2 separate regions of the Homo sapiens genome follow, and region 2 is reported to be linked to region 1. Evidence: microRNA targets listed by miRTarBase, many of them from high-throughput screens and not tested one by one. Region 1 holds a microRNA gene; the other region holds the end of a gene's coding sequence.
The links. The annotated mature microRNA hsa-miR-190a-3p reads CUAUAUAUCAAACAUAUUCCU and lies in region 1 at 5,188-5,208, opposite strand. An mRNA with a match to its seed (bases 2 to 7 or 8) in the 3' UTR can be bound and repressed. Matches are read on the target gene's strand: a 7mer-m8 pairs with bases 2 to 8, a 7mer-A1 pairs with bases 2 to 7 and ends in A, and an 8mer does both.

Region 2: the mRNA of PTPRD is a reported target of hsa-miR-190a-3p. Seed matches in the 3' UTR shown: 7mer-m8 at 5,528-5,534, 7mer-m8 at 5,520-5,526, 7mer-m8 at 5,487-5,493, 7mer-m8 at 4,493-4,499, 7mer-m8 at 4,491-4,497, 7mer-m8 at 4,489-4,495 and 3 more.

What each region holds. Positions count from the first base shown.
Region 1 is chr15:62,822,089-62,829,215 of GRCh38, reverse strand. It overlaps MIR190A (microRNA 190a), which reads right to left and starts at 5,259; the gene lies at 5,175-5,259. All of the region lies in intron 54 of TLN2 (talin 2), which reads right to left.
Region 2 is chr9:8,311,453-8,318,579 of GRCh38, forward strand. PTPRD (protein tyrosine phosphatase receptor type D) reads right to left here. Exons shown (of 46, transcript NM_002839.4): 46 at 2,794-6,490. The coding sequence ends at 6,422. Among named protein-coding and RNA genes, the nearest start is that of DMAC1, 520 kb to the left of the region's middle.

The DNA of each region.
Region 1 (7,127 bases):
ACAATGCCTGTAACAACACATCTCATGTATTATATATATATAATATAATATATATTATATATATATACCTACTATGTACCCTCAAAAACCAAACAGAAAAAAATTTTAAAGAAAAATAAATAAATAAATAAATAAATGGATAGCCCTCACTGCAGAATCACCTGAGGATCTGGTTAAAGATGCAGATGCTGTTTTGGTAGGTCTGGGGTGGGAGTCAGGAATCTGTATTTCTTACAGAGGTGGTTACACACTACTCTGTAGGAAATGCTGGCCTGGACTCAGGAAAACAAACACCATTTAACTTAAACCTACCAGCCTGTGATCCCCTCCAGGGTGAGACTGTGTTTTATTCAACCTATGTTTCTCTAGCACAAAATCAGGCAGAGGAGCCCATGTGATGATCAACATTTGCTGAATGAATATATCCATTCAAAATGCATTTCCCAAGTTCCAGAGTTCAGCCAGAGCACAACGCACAAGGTAGGAGAAGGAGAAATACACAGAGTAAGCATCCACATCATTAGCATCCACTCCTGAGCCCTGGTGGACAGATGCATACACAGCTATGAGCAAGTTCCTGCCCTGTTTGAGGCCTTGAGTTGTTAATTGTACACTCTACTTGCAGCCTTCAACTGGAATTCACAGTTTGTGACATTTAGTCATGCATGGACATACAAATGTAAACACAGTGGCATTTTACCAAGAGGCACTCTTATGTAACAAGACAGCACTGGGAAAAAGAGTGAACAGATGTACAAACTAAGCTTCTACTCTGCCTAATGAAGGTGTTTGTTGCTGCCTCTGCATGCTGAATTAACTTCTCCTTTGATATACTGTTCTTTTCCCCCTTCCCCTTCATTTGAAAAGGCTATTTGGCCAGGTGCCCATCAGCTCTAAGCAATCGTCTTTCCTGGGCTGTCTGGCCAACTCTTGCTGAGGACAGATTTATCCCTACCTGGGCTTTTTGGTAGCTTCTAGAAAGGTCTGAGTACCCTGTAGTTGACCTCTTCCCTGCATGCTGACCTTCCTTGCTCACCCTTTAAAAAGTCAGTGGTCTGGTGAGATCCCTCTTGGGAAAGGCTATATATTGGGTTGGCTCCCTTCCCCTGTTTCCCAGTTGGGAGAGTATTTGGGACCCCTTTATGTTGCTCTGATGGGTTTAAAGTTTCAGTAGCTATATGTCCCCTGGAAGAGGAAATGGTGGTGGTAGGGGAAGTGGTGTGGAAAGTGGAGAAGGTAAAAGGGACAGCCTTTCCTCATGTTTCTTTTGACATTTGGCCTTTCATGGATTCTGAGAACATGGTCTTCACACTAATTCATTCATCTTCTAAGCCTACTTCCCCTCCTAACCTATCTGATGGAGTCATTACAAGCACGTGATTAGTATATGTAAAGCATGGCTGACTCATAGGAGATGCTCAAAAACTATTAGCAATTTCATTATCAAAAATTGTTTTTTTCAGGTTTGGGGCTAAATTAATCTGTTTCTCTGTCTAAACCCTGTTATGTATCCATAATTCCAATAAAAATTCTTCTTGCTATTTCTGATTACAGCCTAAATTCATTATAAGTAAAACCCACAAATCAGTAAGCGTCAGGTACCAAACAGCATAGATGGGCACCAGCTCCTCTCTCAGCACCCAACCAGGAGTGGGACAATCCGGGTGGTAGTCACTGTTCTGTACTTTGACTATGTGACTGTGGAGTCTTCGCTGCCCTTTCTCCAGGTATCAGTTACTCAGTTTTCTGTCACTGGAGGAGCAACTCAACCTTCCTGGTCCTTTTGCCTAGACATGGACAGTTCCAAATTAAACTTCTCTTAGAAGGCGGTGACTAAAATAAGCAGGAACTACCTTTTCTCTTCTGATTTCTCTTGACCTCCTCCTCAATATCCTTACCAACATCCCCCACTGCCCCCGCTCCTCCTCAACGTCCTTACCCACTTCCCCTGCTCACTGTCCTTGTCAGGTCCTGGGCAAGTGTTGGGCAGGGGAAGAGAATGTCCTCCCATGGTCTTTTTCTTGGCCTTTTCTTATGCCCTGCAACCCCACAGCTCCTTCCGCCAATGAACTTGAAGGTGAAGGAGCATAAGGCATGCATAGGAGATGGCCAAAGGGCTTGCCTCCCTCCCTGAAAACTTACTTTGAGGGAATGCTTTGTTGAGAGCTAAAAACACAATGGTCGCCCTTCTCACAACTGGCTCCACAAACTGAAGAACCACCCGTGTCATCTTTCCAGTGGGGTCTCAGGCTTTGCTCTGTGTTACTCAGAGTCTTGCAGAATGCCTGCTACTAAAAATAAGGTCATAGTGCATCAGAAACTTTAAAAAAACCCTCTTGGATATATATTTTTTAAAGTGTGAACATTTTGCATTTAATTTAAATGTCCTTGAGGGAAAAAAGGAGGCCAGTGTCTAGAACTCCCACAACAGGAGTGAGGCATTTTCCTGCCAGTTGGAAGCCGGAGTGGAGCAGGCAGCCACATTTCTCTTTTTTTTTTGTTGTTGCAAGTTTGGCTGCTACTAGTTTGCTTCTGGTATTGAACTGAGAGGTGCCTTGAGGGAGGCCTTAGCCTGTATGCAAAGCCCCAAACTGTGCAAAGGTTAGATCAGCTTCTCCTCTGGAGGACCCATGGATGGGGTGGCTTCAGGACTGCCACCTTTATTAGTTCAAACAAAAGGTACACCTCCCAGAACAACTGGAACTGCTAAGAGCCAGGCATGGACAGCTGGCCTTGTCTCAGGGAAAGCTCCAGAGAGACCTTAAACAGGCAAAATGGGTGGCAGAGAAACTGCCAAATGGCTGTGCCTGTGACTGGGGAGGGACCACACCCTCCGCATCCGAGGAATACGCGCGAGTTCATGCAGTGTCTGCTGGAAAAGGTCCGCACCTGCATGATTAGTATCTTGGGAGTAGTTTTCCCATAGTATCCATTGCTTTACTTTTGTGTTCAAAATGGAAAGCAACGCCACTGAAATAATCTTTTAATCACTATTTCTGTTTAAGGGGCCCTTGAATGTCGATATAGAAAGCACAGACAAAAGATAACAGGGTTCTTCCCAAGCTGTATCAGATAAACTCCCTACATCTTAAGCCCCCTTTCTGTGTCTGTGAAGGATCTGACAAGGACCTACTGGTCTACCCTGGAGGGGAGTCTCCCATACTTGCTTTTCTTATTTATTTATGTTTTTGAGACCGAGTCTCACTCTGTCACCCAGGCTGGAGTGCAGTGGCACGATCCCGGCTCACGGCAACCTCCGCCTCCCAAGTTCAATCGATTCTCAGCCTCCTGAGTAGCTGGGACTACAGGCGTGCACCACCATGCCTGACTTATTATATATATATATAAATATATATATATATAATATATTTATATATATTATATATTATAATATATATTATAATATAATATATAATATATATTATAATATATAATATATTATATAATATATAATTATAATTATATTTAATATATATAAAAATATATTTTTATATATATTTATATTTATATATATATTGTATTTTTAGTAGAGACTGGGTGAAACCCAGCTGTTGGTCAGGCTGGTCTCGAACTCCTGACCTCAAATGATCCGCCCACCTTGGCCTCCCAAACTGCTGGGATTACAGGTGTGAGCCACCATGCCCGGCCCCATACTTGCTTTTCACACCCTGTATGCTCCTGGTCTGGAACCAATGAGTGCCACTCAAAGCCCAAGTGCAGCCATACAGAAAATGCTGTATTTGTCCTCCTCCTTCCTGAACAGTTGGTTCCTTTTTCCCTTCACCATATTAATCACTACAGAGAACATGCTGGTCAGTGACAAAGTCACCCAAAGAAACAAGAAAATCACATCAATTCAAACAACTGGGCTTCGTCTGCAGGTCCTTTTGAAACCATGTTTTTCTTTGTTCGTAATAACTTGCTGTCTCTTTTCCATGGCCATTTGCCATTTCAGTCAAACAATGTAACTGGACTCAAAACCAAAGCCGGTGTTCTCTAGCTGTGTGAAGGAGGGACTGATTGGGGCAGCATCTTGAAACCCGCCTGACAGAGCACCTGCCAACACACACAGATCGCTTCTCAATGGAGAAGGATTCCAGAGACAGGATCCATTATGTAACTCCAGAAGCCAGGACTCCAACATTACAGGACCCTCTCCTGTGTCATCACCTCTCTGATGTTGCTGTTGGTGACCCTGTCACTATGCATTCACCTGTAAGCAATGTGGCAATGACTTCTAGACACAGTAAGGGGAAGCTTTCATGACTACCTGTTTAAACCATTTGCTTACACCTTTTCTCCTCCAAAACATTGAGAACAGTAGTTCTCTTTCCAGAAAGCAGTGCTCACAAAGTATTTTGTTTGTTGAGAGAACTCAGAATGAACTCACACATACTTCACAGGCTTTTCTATAAGGAAGAGGTCAAAACCAACCAAAGAAGGCTGTTATGTACCAGAAAAAATGTTTTCTATATCATAATCCCAAACTTCCTGCCACAGTCAATTAGGCTATGATATTACTTTCCGATTGTTGGCTTATTCTAAATATTACCAACCTCCACTGACAAGTTAACCTATAACAGGAAATTCAAGAGTTCAGTCAACATTATATTACCTTCATGAGATATATTTAGTCCTATATCCAAGGTTTGTACAAAGCTCACTGACTCAGTATCCATGCAGCTGGTATGGAGGATTTGCTTTATACATTCTGTTACTGTGAGTGGAAAGGGAAGTCATAGAAAACTGATCTGTGCTCCTTGAATTTTTGCTGAAACCCTGACATGAACTTCTAAATTGAAGATCAGGATAAAAATGAACCAAAATGAAACATGAATCTAGATGTGTTTGAGGCTATAATCCTGACCTTTATTCTGTGTCACAGACATGGGTTGGAACCGTTTTTTCCACCAAGCATATTGAATTCCTTAAGGATTCATCACTGCACAAAACTAAGCCACACAGAATACCCCAGGCTCTTATGAAACATCAACACTTATTGTTTCTATAATAAGCAAGTAATCCAGTAATACTGATACAGGTCTCAAATGCTATAAGAAGAAATGGAAGATAACATGAATTGTAATGAGTGCTCCATCTTCTAAATCTACTTGTGATTTTAACGTGTTCTTTCCTGTTGCCTTATAAACTTTATTAGGAACCCCCGGAGACAGGGCAAGACACTGTAGGAATATGTTTGATATATAGTTGGATTAAATAACAACCTAATATATCAAACATATCACACAGAGGCCTGCAGAAAAGGCATCCAGGTTTGACTGAGCTCGAGACTAGGCACAGTATTGAAGGTTACGGCTGCAGGGGGTGGTCACTTTTGCAGCAACTCCGATAACTGTCTTTGGAGCACAAGTCTGCCTGCAGATGTGGAAACGGCGCCATTAACAATACTGTCAGCACATGCACCAGCGCTCACTGACATTCTCATCTCCCCAGGTGAACAGCAGATTCAACGGTGCATGTCTGGGAGATCCCAGGCAAAAAGTGATGCTTAAGTTTTAAGAGCCTGAGGTGGAAATGTACCAGAATCATCATCAAAGACCATGAGCCATTCTCCTTTAAAAACAGGCAACCTGAGACGGTGGTGAGCAGAGCATTTTAGACAAAATTACTGTCTCTCCCCAAACTCTTCCTGAAAGCAGTGTGAATACTCCCCAGAAGGAACACACATCCATTTTATACTGAAGGCATGTGTGTGTACCAGGGTAGGGTTATAGGGATGTAATAAGCAATTGTTTACTGACAGTACCCTGAGGATTTTTTTAAGGTTTTGGGAGAGAATGGAGAGAAGTGATTCAACTCAAAAGACTGGCTGATTTTGGTGCAGATTGTTGTTATTGTTTTTTAATTGGGGAAATAAATTCCTTTATAAAGGCAAGGAAGATATTTCATGCAAAAGTTATTGCAATGTGCCCTATTAGGCACAAAAACTATGGTTTGGGTTGCAGGTTTTCCAAAACAGTTTCATAGATAATATCCACCTCTGGCCATCAGGCAGAGAAAGACTTCAGACCATTGTGAAGCATTCTAGAAGTACCCATCACCCTTCCTAATACGATGGGAGTGAGCTAAGGTAGGAACCCTCAAACAAAGGATTCACATCATCAGTTATGTTAACCTTGACCTTGGCCGAAGGACTCCTTGGCTTTCCTGTAAAAACCCTCAATGTAAACACAAAGGCTATATGATCCTAGAGTACTGTAGGGAGTCCTCACAGGCCTACTTCAGCAGTCATTAATTTTTAAGGTGCTGTTATTTTTTAAACCTTTGTTTTATAAAATGTTAAAACACAGACCCTTCCATCATCCCAATTCCATCATCATTCTTGTACATTCCCTACTTATTTTCTTCATCTGTGAGTTTTTAGAGTTGTAATCATAATAAGTACATAATTCTGCATCCTTTCTGTTATACCATGAGCATTTTCTTCGTGCTACACAGTCCTAGCAACCATTATTTTTCATAGCTGCATAATATTATAGCTGCATAATATTCCTTCGAGGAGTAGCTCTAAGGGCACACATAAACTACAAATGGCCTTTGTGGGACTAGACAAGCCTTCTCTGACAATGGGGTGGGAAACAGGGGCTGGTATGGACTGAAACTGCCACCCAGGGCCATACATAGCCCTCCCAGCTGAGTGACAGTGGTCGGACCCTGGCAAGGTAATTCGCCTCTTGGTGCTTCTGATTCTAATGGACTTTTTCCAAGGATCAGATGAGTGACTCCCATAAAGTACCCAGAAGACTGCCTGGCACAGGCTTGGCAGCTGAACAACGCGAGCTTCCTGGTTTTCTTTCTTCAGGGGCCAGTGGAATAATTTTTATTTCAGGCATTTCCTAGGGAGTAAGTCCCAGACACACATTTTCAGTGATGATGGTGATAATAATGGTGATATAGTTACTATCTACCAAGTCTCACTGTATGTCAGGCAGTGTTCTTATACTATCTTATTTAATTATTATAACAATAATCCTATGGGGTAGGAACTTTAATAATTTTGTTTTCCCATCTGGAGTCGTGAAGTGAACGACCAGACACGGGGAAACCAGGACTCAGACAAGAGCTCAGAAGGACCCTGCGGAAGGACAAAGGGAAAGACATTGAAA
Region 2 (7,127 bases), not on the chromosome of region 1:
ACTGTGGCCAAAGAACATATTTCACATTATTACAACTCTTCAAATATGTTGAGACTTGCTTTATGGTCCAATTTCTAGTTAATTTAGGTAAATGTTTTAAATGCTTTTATAAATAATGTATATTTTTAAGTTATTGAATTTAGTCGTCTACATAGCTCACTTAGGTAAATTTTGTTAATCAGCTTGTTCATATCTTTTATACCCTTACTGAAGTTTTATTTGGTTTGTTCATTTTATACGTTAATAAGAGAAGCGTTTAAAATCTCCCATGATAGCTGTAGATATGTATGTAACTCCTTTAAGTTCTATTTTTGTTGTCTACATTTTGAGGCCATGTTATGAGGTTCATACACACATATAATTGTCACATCTTCCTGGTGCATTGAAGTTTTTCATCGGAAACTGACCCTTTTATTATTTGGTAATGGTATGGCTGATATTAATATAACTCAGTATAGCTTTCTTTTGGCTATGTTTCCATGGTATATCTTTTGCATCCTTTTACTTTGAGTAGCCTCATGTTCTTACAAGCATTATATAGCTAGGCTAAAAATCTGCATCTTTAAGTTGAATATACTTTATTTACATTTGAAGTAATTACTGTTTTAAATTTTAAATCTCCCATATTACTTTCTATTTGCCCCCTCCTGTCCTAGATTCTCTTTTCTCTTCATTCTTGCCTTGTAAATTGATTTTTTAAAAATTATTCTATCTTCTCACATATTTCAAAGCACCCACAATTTGCTATTTTGAAATACTTATTGTAAAAATTTTAGAAAATGTACGAAGTGCAGCAACAAAATTTTATCACACAGTATCATTTAATAATTATATTTCTTTCCAGTCACTTCTTTGCTTTAAGATGTGTACATAATTTTATATCCCTTCTTGAAAAGTATATTATAATAATTTTTAATGTAGCTATCTTTTTTCCAAAACACTATTTAATAGTGAAATGCTAATGCATTATAAATGGCATTATGGTGTGTATGTAAAATAATATATGTAAAATTACATGTAATATATACATTACATATATGTATTGTATATATAACTGTAAAACATTTTTACACATACACAATTTTACATATTTTAAGTCTTTTTGTATTATTAAACACAAGATTTCACAGGTCTTTGCCTATTTCCTCAGAATTTGCAGAAATTATTTTAAACATTATAAAGTTAAATATTTCTCAGATTCATAATTTTACCAATTATTGTAATTAAAATTCTCATAAAGTTTAATTATGGATACAATTAAGTGAAAGTCCCAAGCTTATAGTTATTATTAACTATTAATTCTGTGTGTGTGTGTACATGTATACAATCAGATCATATTTGTTATTCTTGGTATTCTATCAGATATCTGTTTAAAGTTATGAATCACAAGGAACAAAATATCAAATCTGATACACTTCGAAGTCTCTGTCCTGTTTTTACACAATCAATCAATAGGGTGGTCATATCTGCAAAAGTAAAAGCCAATTAGGTGAAGTGGAAAAAGAGGAGTCTGGTTGTTCATTCAATAACAGGATTTCCAAAATAATGTTTGGATAATGGAATTGTTTTATTCTGTCATCATTTCTAACAAGTAGTTTTAACATTACCAAGCATACCTGTGCTTTGCCTTATGTTAACAAATTAGGCTGATCAGCAGCCAGTTGTTGGTCCCACAATATTCACTGGGGTTTGGCAAAGGGACAGCCACCTTAAACCCTTCTGGATTTGATAACTCAATGCACACATTCTCGCCTTCTGTCCATACTTGTGTTCCTGAGATCATCGCTTACCCCAAGACAGGTTCAATTAGGATCAAGAAGAATTCACTCCATTCTAGGACTTTTGGTTGTGTTGTTGGGGGAAGTAAACTCTTCCACTTGTCTGCTCTGTGGTGTTATGATCCCAAAGCTTCCAGGGACTACAAAAAGGGAGTTTAAAATTGAAACTGTGAAAGTAGAATCAGGCTGGATGATGGGAAGAGACATCACGTCCTGAAGGCATCACTGAGCCCTGAATCAAGTTATGCCTGAAGATGATGTATTCCTACTCTTCTAGTAAATGAGTCCATTCCTAATCTTTTAGTACATGAGTCAGTAAACGCCTTTCTTTTCCTGTAGACCAATTTGAGTCAGACTTTCTGTCACTCACAATTGAAAGTCCTAACTTCAAGGATCCTACACTTTCCTTCATAGCACTGGTCCCATGTGATGTTACTATTACTTCAGTGCCAACCTCTCTCAGTAGACTGTAGTCTGTATGCAAACAGCAGCAGTATCTCATTTGTTCAGAGCTGCATTTCCAATACCTAGAACAATTCTGACCCATTATTGGTACTTGATCATATTGAATTACTGAATAAATAACGCAAACCAAGTATTTTCTTAGCCATGTTCCCAAAGGTATGAATAAATTAACACTATGGAGCTATTTTTATGTGCATGAAAGTTGTTTCGAGATGAAAATACATACATACATATAGATGTATATATACAGTTGTGCACTTAAATTTCTATATAGTAATCTTCCACAGAATCAAAGATTGCCTGTGATCTCTGATATGAATGAAAGCAATGCCTCTTTGTTCTGTGAACTTGGAAAAACTATTTCTCTGAGTCTCTGTTTGCTTACCAGTGAAAAGTGCTTACCTCAAGGTAGATATTTGTAAACAGTAGTCTCTCGGTAAACAGAATTCTTACTAGTACAAGGAACTAACTAGATAACCAGAAGAGAAGAGAGAACAAATAGTCAGTTCAAAACCAAAGTGTTTGCATGGACAAAAGCAAAGGCCAGGGCTGCATAACACTGACATTTTTATTAGAATTCATTTGTAACAAATGGAACTTGTGTCAGCAAAGAACTGATTTTCATACAGACTTCTTTCGCCACCAATGTAACGAAGTAAGAAAATAAAAAGCACGCCTTTCATTCTGTAAAACATTTACGCGTACTACTAATTAGAGGTAATTGTATTTTTTAACAAGCCATTTTACAAGTTATTTGTTTTAATTTTTCAGTCTATGCATCCAAAACGAGAGCAAAGAACACAACTGTTATTATCTTTGTAAAGACACTCCAAGCTGGGATGGCAAAGCCACATAACGGATGGATAGAATGGATCTGTAGCCTTCTGATCTCTGCTGGAGTATCAGGGCACCCATAAACCCAAAAGGAACCAAAACCCAAAAAGAAAAACAAAAAGGGAATTAAAAATAAAAGGACTTAAAGCAAAACCGAAAATAAACAGGAAAGAAAAAAAATACGTGCATTACTGCAGACTTTTTTCCCTTCCTGTTTCTATGTTGTGTTATTTACATACACACAAATGAATTTCCGAAGCAGTTTCTTACAGATGGGTTCAAGTAATATCATTATTGGGTGTAGAATCAATAGGGCAGTGCATAGTACAAAGGTATAGAAAGTGCAAAGTTCCCTAGAGGCCCTTCCCTCCCCTGGCTGTCCTCGCCGTTTTCTAACCATGCAAATCATTTTTAAAAAAGAGCTAAAATAAAGTTCTGTACAAATCACTTTTTATATATTTTGATTTTTTTTACCATTGTAACTAATTACAAAATTATACATAACTACACGTACATAGGTAAATAATAGCACCGTACTGGTTATGATGATGAAAATAACTGGAAACTTGAAAGCTTGTGGTAATGGCAGATAAAGATGGTTCACCTGGGAAATTAAAACTTGAATGGTTGTACAGAAAAGCACAGAGTGGAATGCACATCAATGACAGTAAGGGAGTTAGTTCTAGGAACAGCTCCTGAACAGTAAGATTCCCGCAATAGTCTCCGCCTCGTTCGTCTATGGTATGCATCCCATTCATTTTCTTCTTCTGATTATTGTCATCTTTCCCTTTGCCAAATGGGCAGTTATTGTTTCAGGGAGAGAAGCTGCTCATTGGCCAATCATTCTGGTGTGCAGTGCTCCATCGGATTCTACATGTCCAACAAGGCATGTCTGGATGATGCAATGTCTGTCTGACCCCCTTTGTTTAACTAAAAGAAAATTATAGCACTGAGTAATCTGGCACTTGGATAAATCTCCAAAAAGATACAAACTAAAAGAAAATAATGATAACAGACCCACATAGTGCACATTCTTCTCTGGTTCTGATGTAGGTTAGAGAGTCTCATTCTGAGGTAGCCTTCTAGATACTTTTTTTTAGTATTATATATATTTTCTTTTTTTTCTTTTTCTTTGTTTTTTACAAAAGTGCTCAAATACAATGCTTGCAAATGTTTGGTCTCTTGGATTTCACTCTGCTAGCAATGGGAAAATGTGGAAAACAAAAATCCTTCCATGCAGAACATCCATGAAGCTAAAATTAAACCAAAGTAGTATACTCATACCAAAACTCTTTAAGAGTTCCTTGGGTATTTTGAGGATTATTTAAAATCATGTAATATGTGGCAAACTTATGCCATCATCCATGGCTTCCTATAGAAATTCTGTTGGAAGAATTGGGGGTAAGATACATATATATATATAGTTTATTTCCCCTTTTAGAAAAATCCTAATGGAATATCAAATATATTCCAAAGTTGCCAATGATATTTGTTACTAAAATAAGTTTGGTGCAGTTACTGCATGTTCCAGAGCGGATTTGGAAGGGAATATAAATAAAACAAGTAGCTTTTTCTGATGTTGATGATTGATTATAAAAGGAAGAAGGGCCCTGATTATCCAAGTGCTTTGGGCTGGTACAATCACTAACATCCCCGACTTGGCTGAAAACTAGGAATGCATATTATTCAAAGAGTTTTTGTACATGTGGTAAACAGATAATGCTTTAATAGAAAGTAACAGATACGAACAGTGAATGGAAATACGAACCAAAAGCTAAAAAGAAATGCTATTAAAATAGGCATCAATTATAAGGCACTCTAAATGCAAAACTAAAACCAAAACGAAACAAAGTACAGCACTTCCCAGGAATGCTGTATGCCACAAAATGTTTCTGACTGAACAGAGTAACATGAATTTGGCTTTGCCCCTGTTACATATCATAAATGCAAATTTCATAGCACATACTATAGACAATATACGATTGAATACACTTTTTTTAAACAACTCGATAGCTGATATATTACAACATTCTCCCCTCCTAAAGGGATATGCACTGACCTTTCCCACATGCACACCTCTTAGCTATTTAATAATAATTTTTATTGCACTAGAGTGTTAGAAATATTGAACTTTGTTGGAAGCCTGACTAACAAACAAACAAAACAATTTGTGGATGTGATTGATTGGTTAGGTGGGGGTAGATTAGGTAGGAAATCAGGGGGTGAGGTTTGACAATCAATCACTGATGTGCATTCCTCATTTCCCTTTAAAGAAATACCAATATGTCAAAAAATTAAGAATAAATGGAAAGAGATGTTTACAATAGCTTTTCTACGTTTAAAAAAACTAAATCATGGAAGAACTGACTGACTGATAACTGTATCTATTTTTTGTGTGGACACACTGTCTATATATACATAGACACCCTTATAAAATATGGATATATATGTATATATGTTAGCAGCAACTTTATACTTTGCGCCTCCCTGTTGATTCCAAAAACAAAACAAAATAATAATTATCTTTGATTATTTGAAGAGAATGGGTACTTTCTCACCAATCAAAACTGAAGTGTAAAATTAATATATCTGACGAGACTGATACTGTAGATTGAGTTTTGCACAAAAATGTGCAAATTTTCAAATGATTTGATATTTCTACAGCAAGATATTACAGATAACAGTTCTACAGCTTAAAAAAACCTACGATTTGGAAATAAAAAAATGAAGAGTTATGTAACTTTTTTAAAATTCACTTTATCGAATGATACATTTTGTTAAAAAAAAGTTTACACAGTTAGAAATGAAGCACAGGTCAGCAGTATCTTTACAATACTAAAAAACTAAATCAAGGACTTTCTTTTTAAACATTCCCTCCCCTTTCCCCCTAAAATGTTATTATGAGCAGTATGGTGGGAAGGGGCGATGTCAAAGCAGAGTCCGTTTCATTGTGAGAAGCCACACCAGCACATATCTTGTGCTGAACTGCAGCATTCTGGCAATTTCTCCTTGCACCTTTCAAGCAATCCTGAATAAGATGGTGGTTCTTTGCTGTGATTTCTTCTTCCCTTGATTTTGAATCCTTGAGGTATCTGTAAATAAAATCCTTCAGATGCCTCATCAGTCAGGATTCTCTTCATTATTTTTCAGGTTAGATTATTAAACTGTGAATTCTTGGTCCACCTGGAATAATTTGTTTTTAATTTGTTTTGTGTGTAATAGTCCCACTAAGTAGTTGTTAGCTAGAAGTTAAGAAGGACTTCTCAAGTGCCCTGTATGGCTCAGAAGAGACTCCATGGATATTGAAGGGCCTGTAGTAAAAATCCAGAATGGGTCAGGGGTTTCTACGTTGCATAGTGGTCAAAGCTGCCCAGGTACTCTAGTGCGGCACGATAGGAAAACTGATATTGATCCTGCAGGAGACAATGAATGGGGAGAAGCAAAAGAAGGGACCATGAGCATATTTTAATAGAAAAATAAAAATCAATATTGCATAACAAAATAACATCTATATAGGGGCAAAATCACTACTTTCGTCAACTGGTCTAATCCAATGACCAATTGTTTATAGTGAACAAAGAAAAAGCCACATGGGGTGTTGATTAACTTTGCCAATCAATTTGACTAAAACGATCTCCCAATTCCAAGCAGTGGCAGGTCGAGTGAACATTACCTTCCCAGACAAGTGTTTTCCAAGTAGTATCAAACCATTACCACCAATTGAACACATAAACTTCTTACATGCCTTATAAGCAGATAATGATGAAAATCATCCTTTACAATTATCTGCTTATTCAAGATAACTAATTCTCAGTTTAAATATTTAAGAGAGGCTGATACAGACACAAACTGTCCTGAGAAAAATCTGAATTTACTTATCTTCTGAACTACTGCCAACAGAATTTGAATTTTTAAAAAATTATGTTTGGACAGTAGAGCTTGCAGTGAGAATCACTCACAGTCATTTCAGCTACCCTTTGGCTGTCTCTCTCACTTACATATGATGTTCATATACAGCCAGAAGGTAGCTGGTGCGGCACACCAGGCACA